2 separate regions of the Homo sapiens genome follow, and region 2 is linked to region 1. Evidence: fine-mapped QTL for protein levels in blood plasma. A gene starts in region 1. The other region holds a variant in brackets. All regions are shown on one strand. Distances are from middle to middle. Region 1 holds the start of NTRK3 (neurotrophic receptor tyrosine kinase 3). Region 2 overlaps NTRK3 (neurotrophic receptor tyrosine kinase 3).

Evidence for each region. PIP is the posterior inclusion probability: the model's chance that the variant is causal. The UK Biobank Pharma Proteomics Project read protein levels with antibody pairs (Olink). The fine-mapping took linkage between variants from a reference panel, not from the people measured, so its PIPs are less certain.
Region 2: its variant is fine-mapped to the plasma level of the NTRK3 protein (UK Biobank, PIP above 0.99).

Annotation. Positions count from the first base shown.
Region 1 is chr15:88,252,204-88,268,265 of GRCh38, reverse strand. NTRK3 (neurotrophic receptor tyrosine kinase 3) reads left to right here and starts at 11,527. Exons shown (of 20, transcript NM_001012338.3): 1 at 11,527-11,622; 2 at 11,780-11,982; 3 at 12,098-12,360. The coding sequence starts at 12,113. NTRK3-AS1 (NTRK3 antisense RNA 1) reads right to left here and starts at 15,536. Exons shown (of 4, transcript NR_038229.1): 1 at 14,788-15,536; 2 at 1,394-1,485; 3 at 180-399. RefSeq lists enhancers at 9,674-9,968, 12,309-12,845, 12,846-13,383.
Region 2 is chr15:87,960,820-87,976,881 of GRCh38, reverse strand. All of the region lies in intron 14 of NTRK3 (neurotrophic receptor tyrosine kinase 3), which reads left to right. Among named protein-coding and RNA genes, the nearest start is that of MIR11181, 23 kb to the right of the region's middle. The variant G/C (reference allele first, on the strand shown) is at 9,096.

The sequences.
Region 1 (16,062 bases):
ACTGTCTCCTACTTCAGGCAAGGGAAGGTAACTGAGCAGAAGCTGATAGAGTCATTCAGCGAGGCCACATGGCTAAACCCTGATCTCCTTTAGATGATACAATAGGCGGTCTCATCTACTTCACTGGCCAAAATGTATCATGTGACCATGAGAAAGTCGCGTTCCTATGTTACTCCTACCTGTACGATGGAGAGGTCATTATATTTGCCTGTAAATCCATTTCGGAAACGAGGCAGGAAAAATAGGTATCCAATAAACACCAAAAATTGCTGTACTCTGCTGGATTCTGGGGGACTGTTGTAAGGCCTGGGTGAGGTTATGTTGGAGAATTTTGTGTTCCTTGGAGAGAGATGCTTAAAGAGCTGATGTCATAAAAATGTGTCATAAAATGCTGTTGTGCTGAAAAAAGAAAAAAAAAGGGTAGCTTTCCACTTGAGAGAGAGGTGTGTGGTCCAGGAGGGGCCAGCAGCATTTGGGACATGAGGTTCTCAGACCTCTAGCCAGAATCTGTTACTTGTCTTTCTTTCTTTCTTTCTTTCTTTCTTTCTTTCTTTCTTTCTTTCTTTCTTTCTGTCTGTCTGTCTGTCTTTCTTTCTTTCTTTCTTTCTTTCTTTCTTTCTTTCTCTTTCTCTTTCTTTCTTTCTTTCTTCCTTTCCTTCCCTTCCTTCCTTCTTTCCTTCCTTCCTTCCTTCCTTCCTTCCTTCCTTCCTTCCTTCCTTCCGTCTTTCTTTCTTTCTTTCTTTCTGTCTGTCTGTCTTTCTTTCTTTCTTTCTTTCTTTCTTTCTTTCTTTCTTTCTTTCTTTCTTTTTCTTTCTTTCTTTCTTTCTTCCTTTCCTTCCCTTCCTTCCTTCCTTCCTTCCTTCCTTCCTTCCTTCCTTCTTTCTTTCTTTCTTTCTTTCTTTCTTTCTTTCTTTCTTTCTTTCTTTCTTTCATTTTTTTGAATGGGCAGAATGGATGCCTCGGAGTAGAAGCCTTTGGCTGTAGTCCTAACTAACTATGCAGCTTTGGGGACATAACTTAGTTATCTTGGGCCTAATTTGTCTACCTATAAAATAGCAGGGACAGGGGATTGTACTAAATGTGGTGTTTCCCAAATTGGTAAGTTTCCATGAGGCTTTTGTGACTGTGGCAATACCCCAGGGTCTTCAAAGGCACAGGAATAACAAACATGGCACAAATCTTCCACCCCCTTCCCCCTCATCCCCTCCCTCCCTGCTCTCTCTCCTCCAAGTTTGGGAATTCTAGTTGGGAAAATGTGAGGAACACAGGAATGGTTAATCTCTAAGGCCTTTTCAAAGATTATGATTTTATAATTATAAAATCAGTGATATTATTATTGCTATTATTTTTGGTATGTGTGAGGGAGTTGGGGTTAATGATAAACTGAACTCACAGAAATGTCTAGTATCTTCTTTCTTCTTCCTAAAATCCCGGGACTGGAAACTTTCAGTGGACTTGGAAGTTGAAAGCAAAGTGAGCTGGCTTCTGTGGTCAGCCCATGAGGGCAGGGAGGGACAGAAGAGAAGAGTGGGGGTCAGGAAGTGCGGTGATATTTACAAAGTTCTATTCTGTCATCTTTGCATCAGAGAGTTTACAGATTAAAAGTATGGCTTCTAATTCAATCTGGCACAAGGGAATGAGGATCCTGCCATCAGCATCCTTCATTAAGCACCTTCTTTTGCCCCCAGCCTCTGCAGTTGCCCTCACCACACACGCAACCTCCCCACACACCCCTCTGGCTCCCACCTCTCTCTCCGACCTGCATCCACATGTGCATACCCAGCCCATTGGGAGTGCCCCTCACCCACACCCCACCGCACCCCACCCACGAGTAAAGCCCACCCGCCCCCCGCCACCTGCTCCCCGTGCTCACCTGCACTGTCCAGCCCCTGAAGACCCCCTCGCAGGCTGGAGGTTCCTGCCACCCTCAGCACATGCCCCTGGGGACCACATGTGGTGAGTTCACACACCCATCCCCGAGCCCACTCCCCATCTCTCTGTCGCTGCCCACAGCCTTCCCCAGGCTTGGAGCACACACTTGTTCACCCTGTTTAAGATCAAAAATAAACTCTCTGGAACCTGTTCAAAGGTTAATGTGCATCCTCCCTTAATTATTGATTTGTTGATTACAGATGCTTGGGTAGGACATTCATTGTGTCCACTGTGCCAAGGGCCTAACTCTAGAATCCCTGTCCTTTTTGGGAGAAAGTTGGCCCATTGATCTTTTGGGAAGGAGCTATTTGAGTGTTAGATAAAACCTGTCCTGCCACAGGACAGGTCATAGACTAAATATTGTGCTCCCTGCTGAAGCCCTCATTAGCCCTAGCCCAGGATGGTCTAGGGCTATGGCTAATGAGGGCTTGGATGGTCACCGCTGGGGTCCTCCCTCCTTCCTTCGGTCTCAAAACCAGGGAAACCCTGGCAAAGGGGTGTGGGGATGCAGAGGGGCAGAAGTGCACCTCACCAAGTCCCCTGCAGAGGTGGCAGTCTCCCCTTTCCTCATTGCCTCACTAGGGACAATTTAGTGTAAAAAGTGGCACCTGGTTCCATGCTGTGTTTAGGAGACCAGGGTTTAAAACCTGGCTTATTCCACGTACCAGTTGGGTGACCTTGGACATGTGATTTAACCTCTCTGATTCTATTTCTCAACTGTAAAACCAAGTATTTGTGAGGATTCAATGAAATGACACACGTGAAGGCTATAGAAAAATGTCACACACAGAAAACAGTCAATACGTTGCGGTTGAAGTTATTATCATCATCATCACCATCATTCTGCCCATCTTCATCTCTGGGGCCCCACGATCGTAAGAGATGGCTTTCTTTGGTCCAGGGGATGCTTCCCTTTTGGTATGTGGGTGTGGCCTCTGGATGGCTTCTGCTACATTTAAATCTGTCAGGGACACTGAGCCCTGGGGCAACCATAAACTCTTCTGGAAAGAGGTTAGATCCTTCACACCACAGTTCTATGGACATCTCCTTGTTCGTTCCAGCATGAGGCTGGGCAAGGGGAGTGTGGGGCTTGTCACTGGGAAACACTGGGGAGAGGTCTGTCATAGGGCACATGCACAGTGGGAAAATGTCACTGCCATCCATCCATGGGGTTGGACTCCTGGGCTCTCTTTCTTGGAGGGAAGTTCTAGAACTTGACACTAGGAAGAGGGTGTTCAAGGGGAACTCCAAGTGTCCGCAGTGCTTTGAGGGTCATCTGGCTTCCAGCAGTTGGATGAACTCATGGTGCCTTCCAGGTGTGCTTCCAGGCTGAGTTTCTAGGACCCCTTCCCCATGCCTCACATTCACCCCACAGCTTTGAGCATCCGACCTGAGCTTTTGTCAGGGCTGGTTTGCACCTTCCCCCACTGCCACCTTCATTCCCTTTCCCACCCCCATCCCAGAACTCCCTGGGCTGGGCTTTCTGTTCCCTCAGTTCCCAGGCAGTGCAGCTGGTGCTGTGGGCTGGGGAGGGGGTGGAGGACGCAGCAGAAAGTCTGTGGGAGGGAACTATCTCTTAGTTCCAAAGGCAAGCATGGCTTCCCATGCCCTTCCCCACAACGCATCGCTTCCCCCAAATTCCCACACTGGTGTCTCAGCAAATAAGACAACACTTTTTTTTTTAAATTTTGGTTTTCCATTTGCTCTTGATACCTACTTAAATGTGTGTTGTGTGTGTGCTGTTCTCAGTAATCAGTGCCAGAAGAAATTGGAGCTGATCTGGTGATTTCTTGTTTTGAGTCCCAGGTATCTGGCAAATATCTGGTCTCCTCCTCTCTGGGCCTGAGGAGTTTGGGGCATCACCTCTTTGGCCCTCTATGCTCCTGGAGTTCTGTTCTGTTTAAAGAAACAGAAGCCAGGATAGTTTCTAGCAAGCAAGGAGGGTGGAGTTGTGAGCACCCTAATAGGGAGGCCGAACCATCTGGTATGGAGCGGGCCCCCTAAGGAAGAATAGTAGAAAGAAAAAATAAGGGAAGGGAGAACTCCTATGTATCAAATCCTGGGCTAGGCACATTATGCACGTTTTATGATTGCCTTCTCCAAACTGCATTGCAAGGGAAATATCCATGAGCAGTGCCCTTCAGGAGAGGAGGATGAGGCTCTGCTAGGTGAAATGATAAGCCCAGGTCACCAGCTAGAAAGTGCTGGAGCTGGGGTTCAAACCAGATTTGCCTGGGGCTAAAACTCACACTTCATAAAGCTGCCCCTTGGAGGCGAGAGTGTAATGCATGGTGTAAATGGAAGCTGTTGTCTTGGCTTTCCTCAACTCTGAGATCATCTGGTTGTTGATAAATGCAGGCAGGTCAGAGGTGAAGTGCTAATCAAGTGTGCAAAGGTACTGGTGTCCGCTACTCTTAGTGGAAACCAGTGGCTGTCATTTGTGAGTGTTAATGTCCACAAGGTGTTTTCAGGTGCATTATCTTGCTTGGTCCTTGGCATCATTGGATCCCCACGTGACAGAGAAGGAAGTGGAGGATAAGAGAAGGACAGTAGCATGCCCAAGGTGATGCAGCCCAATATGCTTTGATGCTAAATGAATGCATTAGTACAAAGATGGGTCTGAAAGCCATAGTCCTATAATCTGAGCCAGAGGCTCAGGGCCAGGGCAGCTGGAAGGTGTGGCATGGGCTGCTTTGGTGAGGAGCAGGTGGAGAGAAGGGCAACCGTGGGAGGTGGTGAGGCAGAGGCGGGAGCCTGGGAGCCGAGCAGGAGTGGGCTGGGTTGACCAAGAAGGGCAATAGGATACAGTGGGGGCCCTAGGAGATGGGGAGGAACGAAGGGGGAATGTCTAACCCAGAAGAAGTCTTTCTTTGGCTTTCTGCAGGGCAGAGGCCACAGTAATGGGGCTGCTGGACCTGGGCTCTTCCCTAGACTCAGTGGGAGGAGGCTGCCAAAGGCCCAGGTGGTAGGACATTGCTGTTCCCAACCTTCTCTTGAAAACAGGAGCTGCTAATCTTTCTGCTTCTAGAAACCCCTTGATATTTGCCTTGTTGGGGAGAAGTGTGTGGCGGCACATATAACTCTGGGGATACAGAGGAAGTGGTCAGCTCAAAGCACCTCACTTCTGTTAAGTCCCAAACTTCTCTTGTGGACACACATGGGGTTTCAGGCAGCAAAATAATTCATTTAATCTTCCCCCAAAATATGTGGTGTCCATTTTTGGGCTAGCACCAAAGTAGGCCCTGGGGGGTATGTAGTGAACAACACTGACAGCTCCTGGCCCTCTTGGTCCCTGCAGCCCAGGGGGAGGCAGACACTGAACCCTTACTTCCATGTGTGTGGAGTGGTACAAAAGGGCAAGGTGTGCTGGGGGCAGCCATTCATTCAACAACCACCTAGAGAGCCCCTCTGTGTTCTCAATGCCGTTTACGGGGCTGGCAAATCAGTAGATAAAATAAGCAAGGTCTGTGCCCTCAAGGAAGTTACATTTTAAAACCTGGTAACAGGAATATCTCCTTGCAAGTCAGGAAGGTGCCCAGACTTCTCTGCCCCACCCTGTCAATCTTAGTTGCTTCATCTGCCAAATGAAGGCCATTATCCCCGGCTGCCCTCTGAGATGATCCCTGGCTGCTCTCTCATCAGTAAATAGGCAAATGGCTGGGTATTGTGCAGAGGAAGGCACAATGTAAGTTACTCCGAGAGAGCTCATCTAGGAAGGCACGTGAGGGCTATGTCTATAATGGAGGGTGGGTGTGGAGGTGCAATTCTCCAGCCTCTCCATTCCCCTCAGTCCCTGTCAGTGGTGCTGCACTAGCCTCTGCCAACCACCTGCAGGTTTCTGGCTTCCTAAAAGTGTGAGTCCTGACTCTTGACTCCTGATTTCATACCTTGGGGGAAGTTGGCTCATGGAGTGGGAATCCCTCTTCCCTGGCTCCCCTAACCTGCCTGCAGTGCTCACCTGCTGGCAGGAAGTCAGCTGCCTGCCCTGGATCCTGCTGTCTAAGGAAGGGCTCTAGCATCTGCTCCTGCAGGGCCCCCACCAGGACACTCAGAGGCCAGGGAGGCCTTGTGAGTCACTGCCTCTGCAGGACCTAGGACGTGCGGCATTAAATTCCCAGCCCAACTCAACTGCTCAGAGCCGGTGGTGACTCAGCAGGGTCTACCTTCCTATGGAAGGGACCAAAGCCCAGAAGGAGCAACTCAAAGGCATGAGAACCAGCAGCGAGGGGCTCCGGGGCTGAGGAGTTGCATCTCAGGGGAGATGTACCTGGGCCTGCGCTCTGTACTTTCTTCCCCAGGGACCCGAGATTCACTGAACCCTCTCTGGCAGCACACCACTTTGGGGTCTAGGACCAGAGCCAGAGAGTATCTGTGGGCGGTGGCTGCACCCGACCCATTGCACCAACTTGCCAGGGGGTGCTGCAATGTGTGTGGGAAGAGCTTCATGGCGGCATTGTGTTTGGCTGTTAGTGGATAAAGGCTGCTGGGGCCTCCCTGCTGGGTGGTAAAGCCCTCTGGGAACCTCAAAAGTGGCATAATAAAGTTGACATACCATGCTTATGTGCACCAGGCACTATTCAAAGTGCCTTACTGTGTTATCTCATGACAACCTTGTGAGTTAGATCCTATTTTGCAGAAGGGGAAACTGAGGCGGAGAGCCTTAAGTACATTGCTAGGGTTCGATACTAGCGGGTAGTAAACCCTACATGACACCATTTTAGTCCCATTACAGCTGCTTACCGCCTGGCTCCCCAAGGTCAGAGCACCTCAAGCCGGTGTGATCTGGAGCCATGCTTTATTTAAACCGATCACTTTGACAAACCGAATGCATTTCCAATAGCTGTAGTGGGGAAAGATCAGAAAGCTGTGCTTTTGGAGTATAGGGAAGGAACTGAGGCTTTGCTCAGAGAAGAGAGGGGCAGTGAGTAGCCTCCTGGGTGGCTTGCAGAAAAGAGGTGAGACTTTTCCCTGAGGGTCTAGGTGGCAGCACTAGCACGAGGGTGGCAGCTTTAGGGTGCTGGCTTCGCTATGTCAAAGTCAAGGATACCCAAGGAATGGAGCTGTCTGAGAACAGAGTCGAAGGCTCTGGAGTGGCTGGTAATGAGCTTCCTGCCACTGAAGGTGTTCAAGCAGGACACCACCAGCAGGTAGTCCCAACCTCCTGGCAGGTGTTTGTCCAAGATATTGGGACTTGAGTGGGAGCCCTGAGCTGGCTCTTCCATGGTTGAATTCTTCTGCTTTCCTGGACCACTTTGGTGCTTGACTGTCCCCTTTTGTGGGTGGGCTTTCATCTTCCATGTATGGTCAAAATTCTTTCCTTGGACCCAGAGCTTCTGGATAGCATTATACATCCCCAGCCTCCAACCAGGCCCAGACCTGTCTCTTTCCCTTGTAACTTATGCTTGGGCCACCCAAGAAACAGAACTCCTCCTCTAGCCCAAGCCCAGATCTGCCAGCTCCAGATAGCTCTTTTAGAACAGCAAGTCCTTCAGGACCTAGTATTCCCTTTGTAGCCCGCTGTGCTCCCCAGTCACCTCCCAGTATCACAGTTTCTTGACCAGCTGAGACTTGCAGAAGTAGATCCTATTTCTGCTCAAACTTGAAAGTTGTGAAGCACAGCTCTTGGATTCAGAATGACACCATAGGAGCAGGGCATGGTGGGTGAATCCATGGACCTGCCTGGTGTGTGGCCTACATCCCGGTAATGTGGCCACTGACTCAGGAGTATGGGTCCTTTGGAAAAAGGGATGTGGCTGGGTTAGAAAGGCAGACAGGTGACCAATAGACTGGCAGGGCTCTGCTCTGAGTTTCCACTCCCTTTCTCCCTTGCTAGGTGGAGGGGAATGTGGGCTGCTGGAAATCTCCCATAAACAGTTGATATTAATCTCAGGTGCTTGCACGCCTGGAACATGCCTTTTAAGAAAGACACGTGTTCAATTTCTCTAGGTGTCAGGGGAGTTGGGCCACTGTGCTCCAGCAAGTGGTCCCCACTCTGACCTGTCTGGTGAAAGATTGCATTCGAATCTTGGGAACATTTCTGTCTTCTCCAAACCCTTGGTACTGGAAGGTGTCTGCTCGCCTGTAAAGGGTTTCTAAAGCTTTACTTTCTGTTCAAAAAACAAAACAAAACAAAAAACTTTGCCTATTCCTGCCTCTTATTGATCAGCAAGGGGCACACGGGTGAGTTTCCTCCTTTCTAAGACTCCAGCTGGTAGCAAAGGAGATGAGGAGGTTGGGGGGTGACCCCTGGTTGGCTGGATGCTGAGCTTGGTCATGATATCTCCAGGACTCCATGAAGCGACAGGCATTTTTCCTTTTCAACCAGGACATTCTTATCAAGAGGTGAGACACTGTAAATGCTCTGGACTCTTACTGAGGGGAGGGTGTCTACGCTGGAGACTTTCTTCTGCTCCCACATTTAAATTTGGCCTACTGCAGAGGTTAAGAACTAGCAAACTCTGAGTGTGCACTATTATTGACCCTGCACTATGATTTCTGTGAGCAGTGCATGAGCAGGTCATTCTCATCTTCTTAAGCTTAGAATGAAACTTCAAATGTCTTTTTCTGACAAGGCCCCTGCCTCTGAGATACCCAGTTTATTTCACCCTAACTTCACTGTAACTGAATAACATTATGAGGACCCATCCCCATCATTCCCCACCTTTTTTTTTTTTTTCTCCCTCAACAGTCCCTTTGGCCCAGATCCATGTAGAATCAGAGAATCTTCAAGCTGGGAGGGATGACTATGGGGCTGCGATGTGCTTATGAATCACCTGGGAGCTTGTTCTGATGGACATTCTGGTTTGGGAGGTCTGTGATGGGGCCTCAGATGCTGCACTTCTTGCAAGCTTCCAGGTGATATGGATGCTACTGGACAGAGGGCCACACTTTGGGTTTTGAGGATCTGGTCTTAACGTGGTCATTTTACAGATGGGAAAGCGGAGTCCCAGAAAGCTTGTCATTTCCCTGTGGTTAGAAATGAAATTCTGCTCTTCCCCACTCTAGTCTATCACCTGCTTTTTTTTTTTAAACCTTTAAGTTCAGGGGTACGTGTGTAGGATGTGCAGCTTTGTTATACAGGTAGACATGTGTCATGGGGTTTGTCGTACAGATTATTTCATCACCCAGGTATTAAGCCTGGTATCCATGAGTTATTTTTCCTGATCCTCTCCCTCCTCCCACCTTCTACCCTCTGGTAGACCCTCATGTGCATTGTCCCCTCTATGTGTCCATGCGTCACCTGCTTTTGAAAGGGCTTCCCTCTTTTTCAGCTGTCGCTTCCTGCTCAGGCCCAGAGTGTGAGCATAAACGTAGCACCCCATCTTAATCCCATTTTACTGTCAGGATGAAAGACTTCTTGCCCATCAGGGCCCCTTGCTCCACAATCTGCATTTTTACCAAATCCAGAGGGGTTTTTAAAGGTTTTTTGTTGTTGTTGTTTTTGTTGTTCTAACTTATGGATGTCTCTTCTTCTCTGCTTGACATGTTAAAAATCCTCTCTCTCTCTCTTTCTTTCTCTCTCTCTCTCTCTCTCAAAAAAGTGGGCTGGGCATCTTTTGGACACAACCATTTCAGTTCCAGGCTGGAGCACTGATGCTGGGCTGAATCCACTTGGCGTTCCCTGCCCAGGAGTGGTCTGAGAGAGGCTGTGTTTCTCTGCTGCCACCTGCCACCTCCCAAGAGAGGCCAAGTGTTAGGATCTGACTACACCTCAGTTTCCTGACTCTCAGATATTCTAAAGCCAATCCCAGAATGGCACTTGAAGTGACAGGGAAATTCCCAGTGGCCTAAGGACAGCCAGGATTGGCCTAGGGCCAGTAGCAAGTGGTTTGAGAGTCCAAGGAGGTCTTCACACTCTGTCCCCGCCTGCTGGTGGGAGGGCAAAATGCCAGTCTGGAGACAAGGCCATAATGGCGACGGGGGTAAAAATCTCCCTGGGGCCAAGGGAAGGTGGAACGTGACGGGAAGTCGGGAAAACTGCCTTGTATAGGCATGTTCTTTTCTTCCATTTTTTTCGTCCAAGTTTTTACTCCAAGCGACAGTGCCACCCGAAGGCGACCGGCCTGTTTGTGGTTGCGCCTGGGGCAGGCGGTGACACCGGCATACCCCTTCCCCCATCTTGCCTGCAAGTTGCATGACCTGCATCGGAATCCACAGGGGGGCGGGGGAGACTCCTTTCAGATACTGGATGCAGTTGAATTGAATTCAATGTATTTTGCTTCCTCGCCTGCCCTCCTCCAAGCTCGGGAAGGAGAACCCTGCTTTCTTCTGCGTGTGAATGCTGTAGTGTGTCTGCCTGCTCGGACTCCCCTAACCCTTTCTTCTCCTTTCCCACAGCGAATGCTCGTTTTTTTTTTTTTCAGCAAACAGCTCACACTTGGCATCTTTATGTTTTATTAAGAAAAAAATCCCTACCAGCGCAAAAGCGGGGCCCCCCCCACACACACTTCTTTCCCGGATGAGATCTGAGCTCTCGTCGAAAGCTGCACCTGCTTTGCGTCCCTACCAGGAAGGGGTGCTTGTGTGGGAGGGAAGGAGGAGGTTCTGCGCCCCCGAATCCGGAGAAAGCAGCCCGCCCGCCCCCTCACCCGGCAGCCAGCTCAGCTCACCCGAGAGCTGAGCCCGAGAAGCCGGCCTCTGACGGTGCTGGCGTGGCGCTTGCCAAAATATGCCCCTTGCATCTCAATTTCCCCCGGCCATTTCTCTTGCACGCACAGCTCGCCCGGGGCCACCTCGGCTCTCCAGCGCAGCCCTTTCGACCCCTGTTTCTTCCTTCCCCGATCCATGCCTGCTCAAGGCCGAATGCAAAACCCACCTCCAAGAAAGCGCAGCGGGCACGGGGGGCACCTAGCGTGCCATGTCCCGCAGTCCCCTCCCAGCCAAGACCAGAGCCCCAGACTCTAGATTACGGAAATGAGTGTCATTCAGACCAAGGACTGCGCGTCTGCGGTCCCGGTCCCCGGCTCTGGGTGCTTCTCTGGGGTGTCTGTGCGCTCCGGCACCCCCCGTCGCCGTCCGTGAGCCTGCGCCCCCCACCCACCCAGGCTTGGGAGCGCCCCCCACCCAAGGCTTGGGAGCACTCCCCAATCACCTCCGCCACGTTCATTTCACTTCCTACCGCGGTCCGGATTGCAGCAAAACCGGGTAGCGCGAGGGCCAAAAAGTGGAAAGGAGAGCGCCTTTCCGTGTCGTGCAGCCAGCTCGCCAACTCTCCCTCCCCAGCCCCGACCCTCGCAATCTCAAATGCAACTTTTTCCCTTCGGTCTCGGTTTCCCCCGGGCTGCGGCTAGCGGGCGCCGCGCTGCGAGGCGTGGAGCGGGCGGGCTGCCGCGAGGCTGCGGGTGGCGGTGCCGGCTACAGCCGCGAGCCGGCGAGTGGGTGGGTGGGTGGGTGGGGAGGAGGGAGAGGACAGGCGGGGAGAGAGACGGGTGTGGGGAGGGGAGGGAGGGGGAGATTCCGCTCTCCTGCCGCTCCCAGCCCGGGCGGGGGGCGGGGGGAGGAGGCCGCGACGAGGGAGGGGAGGAGGGAGGGAGGAAGGGAGGGAGGGAGCCGAGGAAGACGCTCCGATAACCCGTGCGTTTCGTAAGGCTCGGAGCACTTGTACATTTCTGCAGCCGCGCGGCGAGCCATTCGCGGCGGCTGCTGCAGCTCCTACTGCATCTTCCTTCTCTTCCTTTCCTCGGGCTCCGGGTGTGTGTATGTGTGAGAGTGAGTGTGTGTGTTTTGCAGGTGCGTGGTGTGTCCGTTTTAATTCTGCCCAGTAGGTGGGACTTGGTGACTTTAGCACCATTTTTTCCTTTTCCTTTTTTTTTTTTGCCTCCCCACCGTCTGTTGCAACCCTGCAAAGTCTCGGAGTCGGAGAGCGCGCCTCGCTTCCAGAGCCCCCGGACCCGGCGAGTCAGCGATCGCCGAGCCGGCCACCATGCCCGGCAGACCGCGCCACTAGGCGCTCCTCGCGGCTCCCACCCGGCGGCGGCGGCGGCGGCGGCGGCGTCCGCGATGGTTTCAGACGCTGAAGGATTTTGCATCTGATCGCTCGGCGTTTCAAAGGCAGAGGCCCCCCCTCCCCCTTCCCCCCTCCCTCGCCGTCTTTGTTTCCTTCCCCCCCTGCTCTCCCCACTCCCCCCACCCCACCCCCCTCTCCTCTCCTCCTCCTCTTTTTTAGAAGCAGCGATCGGAGATGGATGTCTCTCTTTGCCCAGCCAAGTGTAGTTTCTGGCGGATTTTCTTGCTGGGAAGCGTCTGGCTGGACTATGTGGGCTCCGTGCTGGCTTGCCCTGCAAATTGTGTCTGCAGCAAGACTGAGATCAATTGCCGGCGGCCGGACGATGGGAACCTCTTCCCCCTCCTGGAAGGGCAGGATTCAGGGAACAGCAATGGGAACGCCAGTATCAACATCACGGACATCTCAAGGAATATCACTTCCATGTAAGTCAGGCGGCCGCTCCCCAGCCTGCCTCCCCCGCGCTCTGCGTCTCCCTCCTGCCCACCCGCGGCCGGGAGCCGGCCCTCCGCCCGCCCCAGCTCGCCGCTGCCCGCCGCCCGCTGGGCGCGCGTCAGGCTCGCTCTGGCTCGGGAGATGCTCTCCGGCTGCGCATTCCAGGTGACTCCGGCCCTGGCGAGGCGCGATCCGGCTATGCGTGTGTGTGCCTCTCCCCGGAGAGGACCCCGGCCGCCGAGGGCACGCGGGGCCCAGCTACCGCCCGCCTCCCAACCAGTTGCTGGCTCGTTTCGATGGTGCAAATTGTTTTTTTTTGCTCCCCACTAAATAGCAACAGTTTGGCCACGCTCAAGTGGAATAAAGTAGACGAGGTTCGATTCTTTGGCAGAGGCGGCAGCGGCGGTGGCAGCGGCGGCAGCGCTTAGCCGGCAGGGAAGGTGACAGATAGGGACTGCTCGCGATCCAGCCGAGGTGTTTAACTATTTCCATTTGGAAACAGCAAAACATGCTGACAAGTAAACAAGTTGCGAGCTGGCTGCTCGCGGGGAGACTTTGGACGTGTGGAGGCCGTCATGGACGCCTACCTCTTCCCTTCCCCTCCTGCAGCCCGCCCTCTCCAGCCCCATTTTGGGCATTTCCGAGACACCCCTTTGCCACCCTCATCTGCATCTGGGCGCCTACAGATCCCTTCCCAGTTTGGGCTTTGATAACTGCTCGGAACTATTCCGAGTCAGGATGGCGCAGGGAGAGGAGAGGGCGTGTGTTTTGAGGAGAGGGGTTTCTTGTGTGATCGTGCGGATCGGTTCATTTGGAACATTCAACTCTGGCTGGCTTTTGCTTGGTTCTGCCCCCTCCGAGGGAGACCAGTGGTGGCCTGCTCTTTTCTCCTTGCTATTTTTCTTTGGTGGGGATGGCAGCAGACGCAAAGGAGAGGACAGATCGAGGGCTGGGGACTGGAGAGTCTGCTCCTCTTTTCTTTCGTTGACCTCGGCCAGGTGACCCCTTCCTAACCTACCACCCTGGAGAAGGGTGTGGACCATACTGGAATTGCTCAGAGGATAATTCTCACCTCTTTTCCCCCAAGGCTTCCAGCCCTTGGGGACCCTCAGCAATGGGTAGGCAGCTGAGAAGGGTTTGTGCTGAGGTCCTGGCCAAGGTCTGGAGGAAGGCATTTTGGGTGGCTCTTTACCCCTTCGACGGACTTAAGGGGGCCGGACCTGCCTTTGGTGCTGCTCTGGGAGCACCTCCCCTTGCTTCAGCCCAGGGCCATGGGGCTGCAAAGCCTGGAGGAATTGCAGTCCTGCTCTTTGGAAAGCCCACCAGCCCTCTCGGCTTAATGGAGCTTCTGCTTGCGCTCTCGCAGCTGACAGTTTGAGGGAAATGGATAGCCCAGGAGATGTCTCTGACTCCTGGCCCAGGAGACAAGCTTGACCCATATCTCAGCTCTGCTGTTCACCCCCTTACCCTCTTCAACCCGGCCAGAGATGACAAGATAAACAGCCAAGGGGCGGGGGTCAGCAGGGAGGGCAGGAGGAACAGGACAGACCCAACTGTGCCTCTCCCCCACTGCAGGCCACAGGCTTCCAGCATTCCCAAGGATGCAGGGAGAAGGGTTCAGAGTGAGACTGTTAGGGAAACTCAGACTTGGAAGTGCATTGCTGGGGCTGTATGTGTATGTGTGTAGGGGGTGGATGTGGGTAGTAGGGTGCTGGTGAAGGTGGGAGCTGAGCAGCCAGTCTTGGTGCTCAGAAGCCTGACCTAGAGATTGCCAGGGGTGGGCCAAGGGTTGGAAGAAGGGGCCCCTGGTACCCAGCCTGGGTCTCTGGGAATGGGTGAGCTGCATCCAGTGTGCTGCTCCAAGGATGTGTCTGTCTGTAGAAAGCCAGTGGGAGGCAGGGATGGTCACAATCACGTAGGCTCTTTATAGCCACACAGAGGTGTTGCTCCTCTGAAAATGATGCTCAGGGAAGCAGTTTCATAGGGCAGAGTTGGGTTAGCCTTTCTAGGCTGCCAGAAAGGTCTGTGATGGGAGGGGACTGGGGTGGCCTCTTGCCCTCTTTGGTACTGGAGGGCCTCAGGAGGGCGTCTGGGAGGATAGTGAGCAGGGAGTGGATCTGGAGCCCCTCTGTGTGTGTCCCCATTCTTGTTTCAGGACTTGGATTCTGAGAGGCCATCAGGACTCCTTTCTCTAAATCCACCCAACACCAAAGAACAAGGGAAATGGATTCCCACAGGAGCTGTGCCAGTGGCAGGTGGGGGAGGGTCAGAGGTCATGGGTCAAATGACCTCTCCTTGCCCCATCTTTTCCCCAGTGCCCTGTTATATCTATGGCTGGTATTGACTGAGCTCGAGAAGAGCCCAGATTTCCACTCCAGAGCCAGGGGGCTGGAGAGAGGGCGGAGAGTCACGCTTACCCCGGAAAGTCAGCATCCCCATCCCTGTTTGACTTCTGAGGAAATGGAGGCTTGGGGTGGTAAGGTCACTTGCCCCAGACACACAATCCCAACAGGAACCCCCACTGTGTGGGGCTGCATATGGAGCAGGCTGGAAGAGGGATGTGCGGGCAGAGAGAAGCACCCGCAGCTGGGGTCAGTTCTTGTTTTAGTATGACTTGGGAAGAGGGCTTCAGTTGAAGCCCGTGCCTTGCTGGAGAGTTGTTCTTCAGATTTCTGATGTTATCAAGGAAATGGGACCAAGAGGTCCCCTAGCTCCCTACTGGCCTGAAGCTCTTGATGCTGGTGGCTGCCCCAGGGTATAGCTTGGGCACACTCTGGGTAGAAGATGCTGAGGCCTCCACAGTTTCACCCTCTTGTTCTTCGGGCTGTAATGTTTCGAGATCCTTCCTTCAAGTGCTGAACTGATTGTAACTGAGTTTCCAGAGGGACAAGAGGTTTCCCTGTGGTTCTGCTTCTCAGGGATGGTGTGTGGAGTGATTCCTGTGTGGCCATCCAAGGAAGCTGGCTGGGAACTGCCTCTGATGGGGGAGGCCATCTCCCCATTCAGCTGCCCTGTTTGTATCTGGAGGAAATCAGTTGCAAGGCATCAGAGCATAAGTGTGGGTCTCACCTCCACCCCTCACCAGAGCCACGCTCCTCCAAAGGGCCCTCCCTTTTGGCCCCTTTCTGCCCAGGAGGCCAATCCCTTTGCCTTTGCAGCTGTTGATACACAGGAACCTCATGGAGCCTGGAAGGGTCCATGCGCAGCCACACCCAACCAGGCTGTGACGTCACAAAGGCAGGAGGGTGGTGGCCATGGTGGACTGTCTGGGCCGCTTTGCTAGGCCAGGCCTACCTGGGGCTGGGTTGGAGTGGTATGGTCTTTAGCTGTTAGAAAGAAGATGAAGTGGGAGAGGATGGCATGGCTGGACCAGGTATGCTTGGGGCTGGCTACCTCGGCTTGCAAAGACCACGGGCTCTTAGCTGGGACTCTGAGTCGCCAGCTGGGTCTCACTCTGAGCCGCCACAGGGTCCCTGGCATTTGGCAGCTCTCTGGTCCCTTCATTTCCATGGCCCTCCCTGAAGGCCCTCTTCTGGCTGGCTGAAGGATCATTCGGGGCTTTGGCCGTCATGTTGGCTCCTGAGTCTCATTCTTTCTAAGGATCAAGGGGAGACCCAGCCTTGACAATGACCCAGCAGGGTATGAGCCAGGCCCCAAAGGCATCATGGGGCTCACTCTCGGTAGGCACAGTT
Region 2 (16,062 bases), 290 kb after region 1:
GCTGTCCCTAGGATGGAGTGGTTTTGTATGTTCCCTGTGGATGTTGGGAAAGTGACCTTGCCCAAGGAAAGACGGGGCTTTGGGCGTACAGGTCAACACACTTGTCATTCAGAGACACACTCCCTTTCATGCACACACTCAGGTGAGCCACACTCTCATGGCAAGTTTCATGTGGGCTGCCAGGAGGGAGAGGCCAAAGAGTAAAATGCTTAGATGAACTGGCACATCTGTGCACCCTTGGACCCTGGCAGTGACACAGCTAGAAGAGTTGAAATGCTCCCTGTAACTTGCCCTCTTCCTTTCAGGAGGAGAGGACACCGTGAGGCCCTGTATGCAGGAGAGATGGAGCAAGAGTGGAGAATGCGGGCCGGGAAAAGGCTCCTGGGTGGATCTGAATGCTTCACTGGGCCCCAGTAATCCCTGATGGAGCTCAGTCATTGAGGCAGTAGAGATGAGACAAGTAAAGTAATGTGGAAGAGCTCACGTTCCAGTCTGACAGGAAGTTGATCAGGCTAGGTTGGTGCTTTTCTATATACCCTCAGTTGCTTTATCTTCTATTTAAGTCTAGTTTGGTTTGAGACCCCCTTATGCCAAATGGAAGCTCCTGCTCTCTAGAGTGGCCTGGGTGAGGGGTAGACCAAGCTCGGCATTTATCTCTTCTTGAGGGTTCCAAGGAGAAAGAGTTGGAACAGGGATGCCTGAAGGGTTGAGGCTGTCCTGGGGACCATGAGGACATGCACTGGTTCGAGGGAGAACTTTCATTTTTAATATAGGAGAGATTTGAGCTTTCTTTTTTTCTGATGCTTGGAGCCTATCAGTGTATGGGAGAAGAGATAATAGATAAAGATGGCCCCTGAGAATATGGGAAGGAAAAGTATCCACAGCTCAGGAGGAAGGGATAGCATTGGCCTCATGGAGGGAGTGCTCTTCCCATAGAGCAGGAGGCAAAAAGAGGAAAGGATGTGGAATGTCTTTTCAAGGTGATAGGGCAAGGAAGTGAGGGAGTTCTTGTCTGGTGGCTTCCATTTTTCCTATAAAGAATGAGGCAAGGCCTTGTGCTGCTAGTGAGAAGACCCAAGGAGAGTTGGAACATCTGAATTGACGGGGAAGAGACTATGGACGACTATGGGGATCTATGGAAAGGTTGCTGGGCAGAATGAGGAACCAGCTGCGATTGGAGTCTAGGCCTCCGTTTTCCATGTTTTACTGCTAGGTGTTGAAGTCTCATGGCATTTACCCCAGGGTTGGTGCCTCTAGGGAAGTCAGAGCTGGTATAGGGCAGATGCGGAGAGCTGAACTCAGCCCAGAAAGATGCCAGTTTGGACTGGCCTCAGCTTAGGGTGGCTCAGGGAACCAGCCAGTCCTGCAGCTCCCTGACCTCCTGCATTCGAATGTCACCAACAGGATTTCACAGTAGCTTTGTCAGACCTTAAGCTTACATTTTGATCCTGCGGGATTTTGCTGCACAGATTGACAGCTGACTCAGTTCACGAACCCAGGGTGCTTGCCAGGCGCTCCCTGGATCTTCATTCTAGAGACTTGGTTGACAGGTGCTGGTTCTGAAGCTCAGAGAATGAGAAACTCAACTGTACCAATAAGATCTTGTAGAAACAAGGTGAAATTCGATCTAACACATTCCAGGGACATGCCCTGGAGAGGCTGGACTTTTTTACTAGCATTACATGATGAGGTCCTGGAACTGGTTGCCAACCTCCCAAGAATGGGTTTACTGTGGGGCATTAATAGTAATAATTCTATGTAACTTATGAAGCACTTACTCAGAACCAGTCAGATTTTACCCACAAGGAAGCTGAAGCTCAGAAAGATTGAATAACTAGCTCAGGTTTCCACAGCTTGAAACTGGCAGAACCAGGACTGACAGGGGGACTGCCTGACACCTCAAAATGCTTTTGGCCACTCTGCAGCCCCCTAAAGTAGCACATCTTCTGCTCCTGGAAGGCTATGATTGTGAAACACCACCTAGGTGCTCCCCCCTCCAACCCCACTCCACTCCTAAGACAGAGAAGTCTTTCAGGGGTCTTCAGGGATGAGCACCATCCCTGACTTCCTTCTGGAACTTTTGGGACAGGGTGATTTTAAAGACTGGAAAAGAACATCTGCAACGTTCTTTCCTCTCATTGTAGCATTTAGTGACTTGGGGGTGTATGAAAGCATGGTTGGGCTTAGATCTGAGATTAATCACATGTCTTACAGTTGGTGAGATTCCCAAGCAATGATGGCCTTTTTGATATTGGGGAGGACTCATCATACAGTTGGATGAGACCAACCTGATCCTTAGGATAGCAGTTAGGCTGCCCAGGTCTGGGCAAGGGTGAGAAGCTTCAGATAGGAAGGTGGTAGAAGAAAGGATGAGACCAACCTGATCCTTAGGATATCAGGTTAGGCTGCCCAGGTCTGGGCAAGGGTGAGCAGCTTCAGACAGGAAGGTAGTAGAAGAAAGGGCCTTGTCTGACTACCCACTGTCACTTAACCTTTCTTCAACGCACCTCAAAGACCTCCTGATATGTCCAAGCTCAGCCATGCAATGCTCACCCTAAAAAGACCAAACACAAATCAGGCTCAATTTGGAAGTCAAGAATCTGACCTCTAGCCACCTCTGTCTCTTCTTTTGTGCGGGAATCCCTTTCTGCAGCCAAGCTCCCAGCAGCCACATCCTCACCTCCACCTCCCCAGCCACAGGTGTGACCGCAGCACAGCACTGGGCTGTGACACATCCCCTGGCTCGTCCCAGTTCCCTCAGGTCAAGACCAGGCATGAGCAAAGGATCAAGCATCTCAGATACAATGGTGAGGCAGCAAGGGAGGGTTGGATGCCGCGGGAAAGCTCAGGAGCGGGCAGATCAATGCAGGACGACTTCATTGTTGTGTAGCTTTCTGCACGGAGCCAGACATGGATTAGGCAAAGAGCCGGAGCCTTTGTTCCTTCAGGGTTTACTGACTCCTGTGCTCTGGCTAGACTCGCACATTGCTGCCAGCATGACTCTGAAAGCAAGAGCAAAATGAAGGTGGCAGGGAGGGAGAGACAGGGAGGGGGAGAGGGGCGATGCTGGCTGCTTGGAGTCTTCTCTGTGAAGGGCCCAGGGAAAACTCTTAAGCATGACAGCAGAGACGGGAGGAAGGTGGAGAACAATGGGGAGTCTGGCTTCCATCTAGACTGTCCAGCACGGGCCTGGAGCTCTCCTCCTCCTCTCTCCCAGCTCTCCCCCACCCACCACATTGCCAATCTTTAATGCTGGCTGATGTGGGCGAAACTGCTTGCAGCCTCCAGATTCCTTGGATAGCTCTGGTTCTGCATTTTGCCTTTAGAAATCCTACTGTTACCACCCCCTATACTTCCCACCTCCCAAGAAAACCTCAGCCTAGATCTGACAGTATATTTCCAGAGCTAAATAAGACTCCTTCTTCAACCCTACTTGAACCCAAAAGTGAGTTGAAGGAGATATGCTGGCAAGAGATAAGTCCCTTGTCTGCTTTTTTGGGTGGTTCTGAAATTCCATCAGGATTCTGAGGCCCTCTTGGGTAGGACTTTTGTTCCAGTTTCTCCTACTCAGTGGATAAAACTTGCATAGAGTGACCCCAGTTTCCCTTGAAATTAAATCTTGATAAGGGAAGAGATTTCTGCACGGGTGATAAGGTCTAACACCCCTCTGTGTTTTTGCCCCTTTTCATTTTGGCACATTTTCCTTCTATCACAAAATATCTGGGTGTTTGTGCCTGAGAGAGCTAGATCTTCTCTCCTCATTATGCTTGACTTCTGGGTGGGTGTGAATGCATTGCTCAAAGGTTCTGTATGCTCCTGGGCCAGGATGGCGAGGAATGACAAAAACGAGGGGGACAAGGAAGATATCAGAGGCAAACCTTTGACTGGGGCATGCTCTGCTTTGAGAGAAGGGAACAAGAAAGACAGGAGCACTTCTGAGGAGCACAGATCCCACAGGGACGTAGAAGGTACTGATGGCTCAGATTTGGTATCAAAGGCCTCCAGCCCAGGTCTGTGTGGGTTGTATCTGGGAAGGAACTTGGAACTCTGAGGTAGAGGAAAACGGCAGGGTTGCAAATTACCCAGAGAACTGAGCTGTAGAGAAATCTTAGCTGAGGGCTCTGGTGGGACTTTCAAACCAAGATACATGAGCCTTCCATATGGGACCAGATGGGCACCTGGCTTTCTCAGGATCATGGTATTTTCTCATGACCCTCTACCAAAAGGATCCTCTCAAAGCTTCTCTTAAATAGATGATTTAAGGCTTTGATTTACCTATGGGTGGGGACTGGGGCCTTTGGCGTAAGTCAAGAAGAATGGAGCTTGGCTTTTCTGAGAGCCAAAACCCTCGAGCAGTTCTCACTTCACACCCTAAGAGTAATGTCAAGTAATGTCTGAGTTTGGAGGGGTGGTCAAAATCCCCTGCTCAGCTATGGAGAGGGTTTGCAGAGCAAGGAGTGAGGCTGCCCAAAGGCATCGTTCCAGTATGGCAGTCCCTGACTTTTGTCTTCTTCCAAGTTTGAGGGACAGAACATCATGTCACCTCAGAAAACACTACCAAACCTGGCTTTGGTAAGTAATGCTGGAAGCCTTTGTGGATTGCAGTGATGACCAGCTTGTCTTCATGGCTGTCTTTGCCTCAGTTTCTGCCACCTGTGTGCTGTTATCATGGCAGCTCAATGAAGCCTAGCTCTGCCTTTGGAGACCTCACTGGAGCAAGTGGCCTATTTCCCTGAAAAAGACACATTCTCCCCTCCCTTGCCCTCAAGTTCATTCTGCAGTGAGAAGGACAAGGACTTAGCCTTGGCAAAGGGGAAAGTGACTTCACTGCTGTCTAATATGGCCTGGTGATACCTCTGTTACAGAGTTCTGATAGACCACTTACTTTCTCACTCCAAAGCTCACACTACCTTCAGTCTGTTTGGGACCTCGTAATGTCGTTTAAAAATCACATTGTGGTATTCTTTGCTCTGCAAGGCTTGCAATAGCCTTTGGTCAAAAGTCATGAAATCCTGACCTTCAAAAACGCACTTCTCTTAAAAAGAGAGGGTGTGGAGCTGTGGGGAGCACATGTGCTCTTCTAGGGATGGGGCAGGTCTACAGAGCCTGTGACATGGTCCTTGGCAGCTGCACAGGCCTAGGGAAATATTTACCTCTCACAGCTAGGTTCTTGAGCGTGTCGGGAGCTCATGACATGGAGGGTCCTCTAGTTTTAAGCTGAAAGGGTTTAGCCTCTGTGACGCAGGGGACCCCTGCACCTACAAAGGCTAATTTCCAGTCTTTCTCAGCACTGGGTCAGACAAGCAGTCTCCAAGCTCTGCCCTCTTGCTGCCAAAGTCAAGGCAAGGGTGACAGAAGGAACATTCCAGAGTACTGGCTAGATACTAACTAAATCTAGCCTATTAATTATATTCTGTCAGAATCTCTGGATGCTCTTGCTATTAATTCTGAAAGAAAATTCACATGGCAGAGAACATGAGAGTAAATCTCAAACAACTTCTGTCAAGACTGCTAGTTCCTGACAGCTCACCCTGGCCAGGAGGGCACAGCCAGGATCTGTGATGCTCTCTGGTTGCCCCCAACCGGCGACCATAGCTCCTCACTGAGGCCTTTTGCTTCAGAGGGAGCCAGATATAGAGCTGGCCAGGGAGAACTTGAGTCTGTTTCCTCCCACTGTCAGTGGGCAGCAGGGGAGGCACCACCAATATAGAACATATTCTGAGAATGTCCTTCTTGGGAGAATTTAAATTCTAAGTTCATGTTTAAATGACTCACAGAATCGTTCAATCTTTATGGCTGTCAATTTGGCATTTCTTGCTACCATAACAGGAGATTGCTACACAGTACCTCTGATACCAAATGGCCAACCTAGTCGTTAAGAAGACCAGAATAACCCCACTGTGCATTTTCAGGATGGTGTCTTTGGCCATCTTAATAATTTTATTGGGTCAATCACTTGACCAACTGTTATCCTGCATAAATTGGTCTGTTTTCTGGGCAGAGCTTCAGGGCCTGCAATATGGTTCTCCCTTAATTTGAAATCCCCAACTTGCAGAAAAATCTTTTTCTCTTCCTCCAGTTACTAGACAAATGATGTTGTAAGGATCAAGTGCTCCCCTTTTTATTGATTGCAGCAATGTTTCTCCTTAGTCTCATGATATGCCAAGGATCCATCAGAGAACTTTGGAGAATGTTGCACAATATGGCCAGCTCTTAGAGTTTCACAGTTTGCATTAGGATATCAAAGGCTCCAAGAAGTCCTGCTGTAAACAAACCTTATTCTACCTCTTTCCAATTCTAATTAAACACAAAACATTCTTCATTTAATATCTATTAATAGACTCAGCACACACATGTTAGAAAACACTGGGTTATAGTGTGATCAGAAGCTTTTAAAGAAGAATCAAGCAGGATGTGTTCGTCAACCACCCACTTCTTATATCAAGAAACCACCACACCCAGCACGCTACCCAGCTCTAGGCTCAGCCCTCACTTCTGCCTTCTACGTAGAGTCAGAAAAAATTCTGGTTGCTGATGGATAGACACTCTTGTGAAGATCAGGAAACCTTCGCTGTGATATCTCAGAAGAAAATGGTAAGTCATTTCACATAAGAGCTTGAGACCTCAGCATTAAACCTGGCCATCCGCCCAGGCTGGTGGAGGTGACATCATCTAGTGGTAGCATACAGCAATGAAGACCCGGATCCCAGTCTCAACTCTACCACTAGCAAAATGACATGGGGTAAGTTACCTTTCCTTGTTCCATATTTGTCTCTGAGTAGCTAGTAGAGTTTGCTGATCCTCATGTAAAAGACCCTGCCTGGACAGATGCCCCAAATACCATGTCCCCATGAGTCACTGTTGTCTCTTAGTGGAGGACATCTCTTGGTTCCTGGTCCTTCTCTCTCTCTGAATATGTTGTGTATAAGGCAAACTGAGTGAGAGAGATGGCTGCCCCTTTGGGTGAGGATCAGTGGATTTCTCTGGATGAGGGTGGAAGCAGATGCTTGGGGGTTAATAGACCCTCTCTGTCACAGCTGGACAAGGCCAAGCGGGAGTTCTCGGCAAGATTTTCTGAAATTGATCTCAAGAAGGCAGCTCTGCCTAACAAATAGTCTGAAATGTCAAAGTATAAATGTTAAAGCTTGAGGGGTCATTCTCCAGGGAGTTGCCTGGGCTGGCTAGGGAGGGAGAGGAGGAGGGAGAGAGGGACACAGCAGAATCCTTCACATAAAGATTCTGACTTGGTTTTGTGATATTTAAGAAAAAAGAAAACTCTGAATTATTTATAGCACAGAAGATGTAAGCAGGCTGTAGAGAAGTAGCCTGGCTTCACATGATAGTTTATGGCCATTATTTAGCTGCCCCAGCCTTGAACTGGTAAAACTTTTCTCATTAGTCACATGCTGTTGAGCTCTACTTGAGCTATCTATCTATCTATTCTTCTTATTATTGCTATTATCATTATTTTAATCAAGAAAATTCATGTCCTTCAATATATGAGTTGGGGGACGCAATTTCTGGAAATGATATTTGCACAAAGCAGGAGTTACCTCTTTCCCTTAAAGGGACTCTGGCACACGCGTCAGTAACTCTTTCCACCCCTGTGGGTGTTTCCAGCCTGTGCCTCTTCAAGCAGGGATTCGGAAGGCCCCTGCTCTGATATGAGTGGGAAGCATCTCCGTTTGGGCCTGGGCACCAATTGGCCATGTCAATCTGGGAAGGTGAATTTCATCTCTCATTCGTTCCCTCTGAAAGATGAAGGCAATTGTCCTATGCCTCTTCTGAGTATGCTGGGCATAGGAAGGATAATTCCATTGTGTTCAAAATACCTTGGTACCTGGCAGGGGGTGGGGGGATAGCATCTATGTTATGTGAGGAGATAAAAGAAGTAAAGAAATGTTAAAAGGTTAAATAAAAACTGATTGAAGGATTGGTGGTAAAGCTGGGGGGAATGAGTTCTTTCATCTGTTTATTTTGGTCAGTGATAAAATGAATGCTTCATGTTGATAATCATATCCTGATTCTATAGCATGGGTAATTGAAATTCACCAATAATCCCCAAATTGCAGTTAGAATCACAAGCTTCACATGCTCTCTCTTCCATCTCTACACATGGTACAAACACGCTCTTAGTCACTCTCCTAATTGTTTTTGCATACCCTTGACAATACTCTGGGAGATGCAAACACATGGAGTCAACTTTTGGTCAGTTTAGGGGTGGTGAGGTGAGGTTAGTCAAACTGCAAATTAGATCATCAGTAGAGCTCCAAACAAGCAATATTGTATTTAGGAGGTGTTGCTTTTGTTGAAGATATCAATACTTTCGTTTCTTTCCTAGACCTGTTTTTTTTTCTACCTTGAAGAACCTGGAGAACATTTTGCAGTTAAAATGTCACAGTGACACTCCTGTTATAAAACTCTGAACGTGTACATATTTTTACCCTCACTAACTTACTCTACCTCCCAGAAGTCTTTGAAGTGTTTTGCCTCCACTCCCTACTTGCTGTGATGTAGAAGTTAGGCTAGCACCATTGCTCTAGGGCAGTGGTTCTCAAAGTTTTTGGTCTTGGGACTTCTTTTCACTTAAAAGTCATAGAAACCCCAAATGATGTTTGTTTCTGTGGGTTATATCCATCATATTCACTGCATTTGAAATTAAAACTGAGTATAATTTAAAAGCTCAAGTATACACACACATTCCATGTAGCTGTCAGGATGATGACATCATCACATGTCTGGAAACCACTGGACAACTTCATGAATAATACCTGCGAGACACGAGAGTAAAAAAGGCATACACTATCTTACTATTGCTGGGAAAATAGTTTTGACACATGAATCTCCTGAAAGGGTCTTGAGCCCACCAGGGACCTTTGGACCATTTTGAGACCTGCTGTTCTAGGAAAACAGGCACAAGCAGATTCTGAAATCAAACCTGAGTCCCTTTGGAGCCAGGGAAATCTACCAGTCATGCACTTTGATCCAAGTGTAGAAGTCCATCAGAATTCCATTTCTTTACTCAGACATCACTGACTGCCCCATGGGTGTTGACTTAAAGCAAACTGGCTACAACCATGCATGTTCAGTTGCTA[G/C]GAATGTGGAAAATATACAAGAAAGACTTCACCTATTATAAGAAAACAGAGTGGGGGCTGTTTGCTTGCTCTGGAGAAGAACATGGGCTTGATGTCACAGTAAACATTATTGGTTGATTGAAGAGACTCAGCACGAACAGGATTTACAAAATCCCATTGGTGAGAGCAGGAGGCATGAATGGCATGGGATGAGAGAATTTATAAGCAGCACCTTGCTGGTTGGGCATCCCTTCATTGCACTGTAGCTCTCATTGTGCATCACATTTGGACTTGTTTAAGGAACATGTGAGGCTCGCAGTGCTCTAGCCAGGACCTATGGGAGTGCCTATTTAAGTTTAGACACTCTGGCACCTCCTTCCTCTTTCTCCTAAGCTGGGCAGCTTCGGTATAGGAAGATTGGACTATGAAATGCTTTAATGTCTAGGGAGCTTCCTTAGGTTAACTCTGTATAGCACCCAGCACACCACCCAGCAGAGGGACCTGTCTCATCATGAGGTCCTAAGTGGGTGACAGTGTTCATGCCTCTTCCTGTTCATCATTTATACCCCGGGGAGCAAGAACTGCCCTTCTGTGGGATTATTTCACAAACCCACCGGAATAGGGTCTTTCAAGGAATACCTCTGAGATCATGAGCAAATGTTGCTTAATTGACTCATTCTTCAAACATATTTGGGGCATCCACTCTGTGCCACACACTCTGCTACTAAGTGAGTCAGTTGTATTTCCTGTCATCAAGAGCTTTATTGTCTCCTGCACTGGTTTTCAATTGGGGGTGATCTTGTCCCCTAAGGGACATGTGTGGAGACATTTTTGGTTGTGACAACTGAGGGTGGGTGCTTCTGACAGCTCCCCACAAGAAAGAATGATCCAGCCCCAAATGCTAACAGTATTAACGTTGAGAAACCCCAGTCTAGAGACAATACAGTCCAGTATTCACTAGTCTTGGGTAAGAGGGGACCTCCCCACTTTTTAGGGCCCTCCTTTAGCTGCCAAAAGTCCTAGGGCCATGAGAAGGGACCATCTGGAGCCTGCACCCCACCTCCCTTCTAGACAATGTTTCATTTCCTAAACCAGAATTCCTTACCCAAACAGCTCTCAGCTTGCCTCCAGGACACATGCGGGTCTCTTCATTCATCTGTTCTAAGGGTGGGCTACGCTGCAGGTACGTGTACTGCTAAGCCCAAGAGTTGGCCAAAGGATTACTGTGTGGGGGCAGTGGGAACATCGAGAGTGTCAGGGTGGGACGGTTAGAGGAAGATGGAGTTGCAGGCTCAGTGTGCACACATATGTACGCGAGACCCCTTTCACTGTGGGATGGAAGATGGGGGTGGAAGAGAAGGGAACAGGCCAGGGGCCAACTCCTTAGCACCATGTGTCTCCACTCGCAAATCTGAGGAACCAGAGACACCGGAAGTCACCTGGTCCTTCAGGTCATCCTGAAGATCAATTTCGCAGGGCAGGAGGATAAGACATGCCTTATTTATTAGTGTGTTAGCTTGATTTATAACTTCCAAATTTTAGACATGTGTGTGTGCTTCTAATTATTCCCTTGTCCCAAGTCCTTCAAATGTAAGGAATAGGCCTGGTATAGATAAGTGAGTAATTATGAAGCAATATGATGAAATTATGGGAGAGGTAAACATAGAGGAAAGACACCTAGTTCCCAAGTGGAGTTTTTTGTTTGTTTGTTTGTTTGTTTGTTTGTTTGTTTGAGACAGTTTTGCTCTATCATCCAGGCTGGAATGCAGTGGTGTGATCTCGGCTCACTGCAACTTCCACCTCCTGGGCTTAAGTGATTCTCAAGCCTCAGCCTCCCGAGTAGCTGGGATTACAGGTGCCCGCCACCACACCTGGCAGATTTTTGTATTTTTAGTAGAGATGGGGTTTCACCACGTTGGCCAGGCTGGTCTCAAACTCCTGATCTCAAGTGATCCACCTGCCTCGGCCTCCCAAAGTGCTGGGATTACACACATGAGCCACCTTGCTCAGCCTAATGGAGTTCTTAAAAATACTGAATCATGATATTGATCTGCAGATGTTTAAATAAAAATGGCAGTTCAAAGAATGGCATAATCAAAATGATCAGTTAAGACTTTAAAGTTTCCATTGTTTAGAGAGAGCTGCCTTCAAGCCTTGGAAATCCTGACTCCACTGCCTGGTGAATAAACACCACGGTCCTTTGGTGACCTCGGGCTGCCTGAGGTACACAATTGTGGAGGTTCTTCCTGCTGGACAGTCTCCACACTGGGGCAATGCTCTTACAGGCCCACCCAGTTGCCATAGAGACTGATCTCGAGGTCTCCACAATTGACTGGTATTTACTGGGGATCTGCAGCTTTCTGGATGCCGTGACCAGCATCATAAAGGAAAGAGAGGGGCTGCCCCTTCCCGGCTCCCCATCTGTGGACTATTGTGAGAATATCTCTCTGTCACAGAAAGGTAAAGACCCTGGAGAAATTGAATAGGAAGGATAGTTTTTTTCTTTTAATAACATTGTGCTTTTTTCTGATTACAAAGGTAATTTATATTCACAGTAGAAAATTCAGTGAAATACAGAAAAGCACACAAACACATAAATTATCCACCATCCCATCACCCAGAGACAACACTGTTAACATTTCAGCTTTCTGCCTTCTAATCTTTTTTATGTACTTATTTGTCAGAATCAAATCATTCCACGTGCACATGCACATACACATTACTTTGCTACCTTTTTTTAAAAATAAGATTGCATTTGCAATTTAACTGATCTTTTGCAATGTTAAAAATTTTTGTGGAAGTGATATATTCACCACATGGTTAAAAAAATACACACATATACACACACACAAACTTGCACAGAAATGTTCATAGCAGCATTTTTCATAATGGTCAAGAGCAGAAAAACGCAATGTTTATTGACTGGTGAATGGAGAAAGAAAATGTGGTGTAACCATAGAATGGATTACTACTCAGCAATAAAAAGGAATGAAGCACTTACACATGCTACAACATGAATGAATCTCAGAGAAACATGCTAAGTAGCTGGACACAAAACATCCCATTTTCTATGATGCCATTTGTGTGCAATGTCAAGAAGAGGCAAATACGGAGAGACAGAAATTATATTAGTGGCTGCCTAAGGCTGGGGTTGGAAGCAGGGATTAACTATAAATGGACCCAGGGTTCTTGTTGGGGTGATGAATGTTTGAAAACTGGTTTATGCTGGTGATTATACCATTCAGTAGATTTACTAAAAGTTGTTGAATTTTACATTAAAATAGGTGAATTTTATGGTATGTAAAATAATGTCTCAATAAAGTTTGTATATATATACAAAATAAGTTATATAATAAATATGTAAAATAAAGTTTGCATGTATGAACTCAATGATGCTTGTATATAATACATAGTAAATATATAATATATAAACTAAACATATATAATATATGTAAACTTTATTGAAGTATTATCATTATTTATCCAAATTACTGCTACAGATTGATCTATCTGTCTATAAAATGAGAGCACTCCCCTTTTTTACACCTGTTCCTCATTGGCAAGTTGTTCCTAGCACCGCTACCATTACCAGATAAGTAACCTCTGTTATTGAGTGTCCTTATGAATTATATCTAAGCCAATTATATACAAACAGATATAAATGTATGTTGTTTATTTTTTCTCTATTTTGTACAACTGCAGCTGTGTCATACATACTATTGTGCACTTTTTAGGATAATCCCTTCCCCACCCCAGTTTCTTGGAGCTCTTAGAGAACTCCCTCATTGTTGTTTTAGAGATCCATACTATCCTGTTATATTGATGTACTCAAATTTATTTAATTTCTTCACAACAGTTTGCTCTTATAAAACACGGAAATGGATTGATCCTAAATATATTGAAACTAAATAAATGTGGTTGAACCTAAATATAATATTAACATAAAGCCGTATGACCCCTATAAGCTATTTGGTATATCTGTTTTGTATATATTGGCCATATGGGGTGATACCAATGTGTACCCCAAGAGTAATACAGATGCTCCTCAATTTACCATGAGGCTATGTCCTGATAAACCCATGATAAGTTGAAAATATCACAGGTTGAAAATGCACTTAATAACACCTAACTTACCAACCATCATCGCTTAGACTAGCCTACCTTAAATGTGCTCAGAACACTGACATTAGCCTACAGTTGGGCAAAATCATGTAACACAAAGCTTACTTTATAATAAAGTACTGAATATCTCATGTAATTTATGGAATACCATACTGAAAGTGAAAAGCAGAATAATTTCACACCATAGTGAAATTGAAAAGTCCCAAGTCGAACCATCGTTCAGTGGGGGACTGTCCATATATGAGAATGAGATTCCCCACAGTCTTAATAAACAGAGGGTCATGGCTTGACTTTTAATGACTGTGTCATGCTCCACTGTGTGGACATACCAGATTTATTTGTCTAGTCCCCTGTGTTTGAAAACTTGGATTGTTTTATTTTTCCATTCTTACGAAAAACAGCACAAGTATTTAGGTACTCTTGGTGGTTAAGCTGAACAAGGGAGATGGCTCAGTGGCAGCCCTCATCAGAGATAGTATGTCTGTCACTGCATTGCTACCTCTGATGAGGACTGCAGGTATCCAGTGGATTCCCCCAAGCAGGTATCCAGTGGATTCTCCTGAGGGACAGCTATCTTGTAACAGAGAGCTGACTGTGGAAAGCTATCTCCTTCTGAAACATTATTGCTTCAGACCCAAAGATGCAACACGTTGAATGCAGAGGTCATTATCTTTTTTCAGGTAACATCAAGATGTTGCCAACATTCACATAATGTTGTTCCCCAAAGGGCTCTTCTGGCCAGAGCCTTGCCACATTTTAGGGCTGGGGATTCTGAGCTGCACAGTCCAGAAATGTTAATGGAATTCTGAATGAAGCCTCTAATCTCTATGTCCTGCAGAGGGTTAACCAAGCGTGATGCCATGACTTTCTCAAGGTCAGAGTGAGGGTTGGGAGGTAGTACCCATGTATCCTGACCTCTTGCTCTGACCTTTAAGCAGGCGGCGTCCTTGGAACACATCGGGTGGGGCATGGCAGTAGAGATTGAAGCTGGCTGTAAAAGGCCACAGACAATTCAGAGAGAGGCATTTCCAGCCAACCCACTGATCTGGGCTCCAGGCAAGGGAGGGGCACAAACTGGAGAGAAGTCAACCAGCTGGAAGGAATTCAAGGAAATAGCAACAGGAAATCTGAAGGGGTGGAGAGATTGCTAGTGAGATTATCTAAATCTGCAGCTTTTGAGGCCAAGTGATAGCCATGTTTTCTCTCTAGCAGCCCTCAGCGGTGACAGCAAAGCCCATGCTGTGGCTTCAACACCTCTCCTCCTCTTTTTCTAACAAACAGGGTCTTTAGTGTCTTTCTAGGGGTGAGCATGGATGGGGCCAAAGATGGTCAGGCAGGAGAAATATATCCTCTTCCTCTCCTCTTCTGGGTTCCTGAGCTCTTGTCTGCTGAAGATAAGTCCTGGGGGAAGGAAAGGTCTTTAGACAGCAGAGCAGATGATGCAGAAAGAGCCCAAACATATGCACGGGCAAGACAAGCATAAAGTGATGATATTAGGGATCAAGATCCAATGGCAACAGGGAAGGGAGAAAAAAGCTGGGTGTGGGAGGAGCATTGTAGTTGAAACCAATAAGTGCAATTAGGTTTGTGTCACTTCCTACAGCCCAAGCAAGCTGTTTGTTGGTCATCTGTTAGAGGTGGCTGCCAAGATGCCATGTGCATTCCAAGATCCCTGGGTGCTGGCCCTTCCTATCTGCCAGGCCGAGAGAGGGACAATGGATGCCAGCTCTGGAAGTCCACTCAGCCATGTGTGGCCCACCTCTCTGGTATGCTCCTGGAAGCAGGGGTAGTTGGAATCAAGGAAATACAGCATCAGAAAGAAGTCTGAGCACCTGCTCATTGCTTTCCTTGCAATGGGGTTGAGAAGAAGCAGTTATAGGTGGATTGAATCAGGGGTTAATGGCTAGGCCAAAGGGAAGCCTGGTGCTCTCACCAACACACCAATGTCCATCTGTTGCTTAGCCCATCTGGGCATGCCCTGGGCAGGACCTGCTGCAGCTCAGAAAGCAGGAGCTTTTAGGGGACAGACTGCACCCTCAGGAATTGGCCTTGCCACTGCAGCCCACTTCAGACCTGACTTACTTCCTGCCTGATTAACTTTCCCATCTCCCACCCCAGCTCCTGCTGTAGCTGGTATGCCAATCGGCAAACCTGCTAATACTACAGTGCCCAGAAAAGTGGGTGCTCAAAAAATATTTGTTCATTTAAGAAAGTTATTAGCTAAGGCATCAATTAAATGCGACTTTAAAAAATCTCCCTAGAAGGAGTGTCTCCAGATTCTTTGGAAATCTACCCACATAGCTAGCTTGAGTTTTTTAGGGATCGGTGGCATATGTTCTTCTTTTAATGACAGTCAACAGTTTAATGATAGTCTCTAAACTTAATGCCAAGTGTAGGCTATGCATCAGGTTTACATGGTGGATTCAAACCTGGTCTGTGATTCAGAGGGAGATGGCTGTGCACAGGGAAGTCATATACCACATTGTGATAAGTACCCATATGCCCTGGGCTTCCTGGAATTTCAGAATCCTGATCATACCTATGTCTGTCGAGATAAGTGAGTACCCCATCTCATCAGATGCAAGGCTGCTAATGATCAGAGAGGCCAGGTAGGCATTAGTCAGACTGTGAAGGATTTAAACTTCACCTGTGTTGAATGAGGACTAGGAAAAAGCAGTTGGGCCTGGGCATCAGAGATCACTGTGACTTTATAACAGGTAAAGTCAGGGGGGTGAAGTGGTAGAAGTGAGAGTGAAATGAGGCTTGAGAAATGATTGGGAAGCAGAAGAATGATATGGCACGCCGCTTAGACTACCCATCAGAGTCTGGTGATGAAGGCAGACAAAGGAGTAATTTCTAGGGGAGG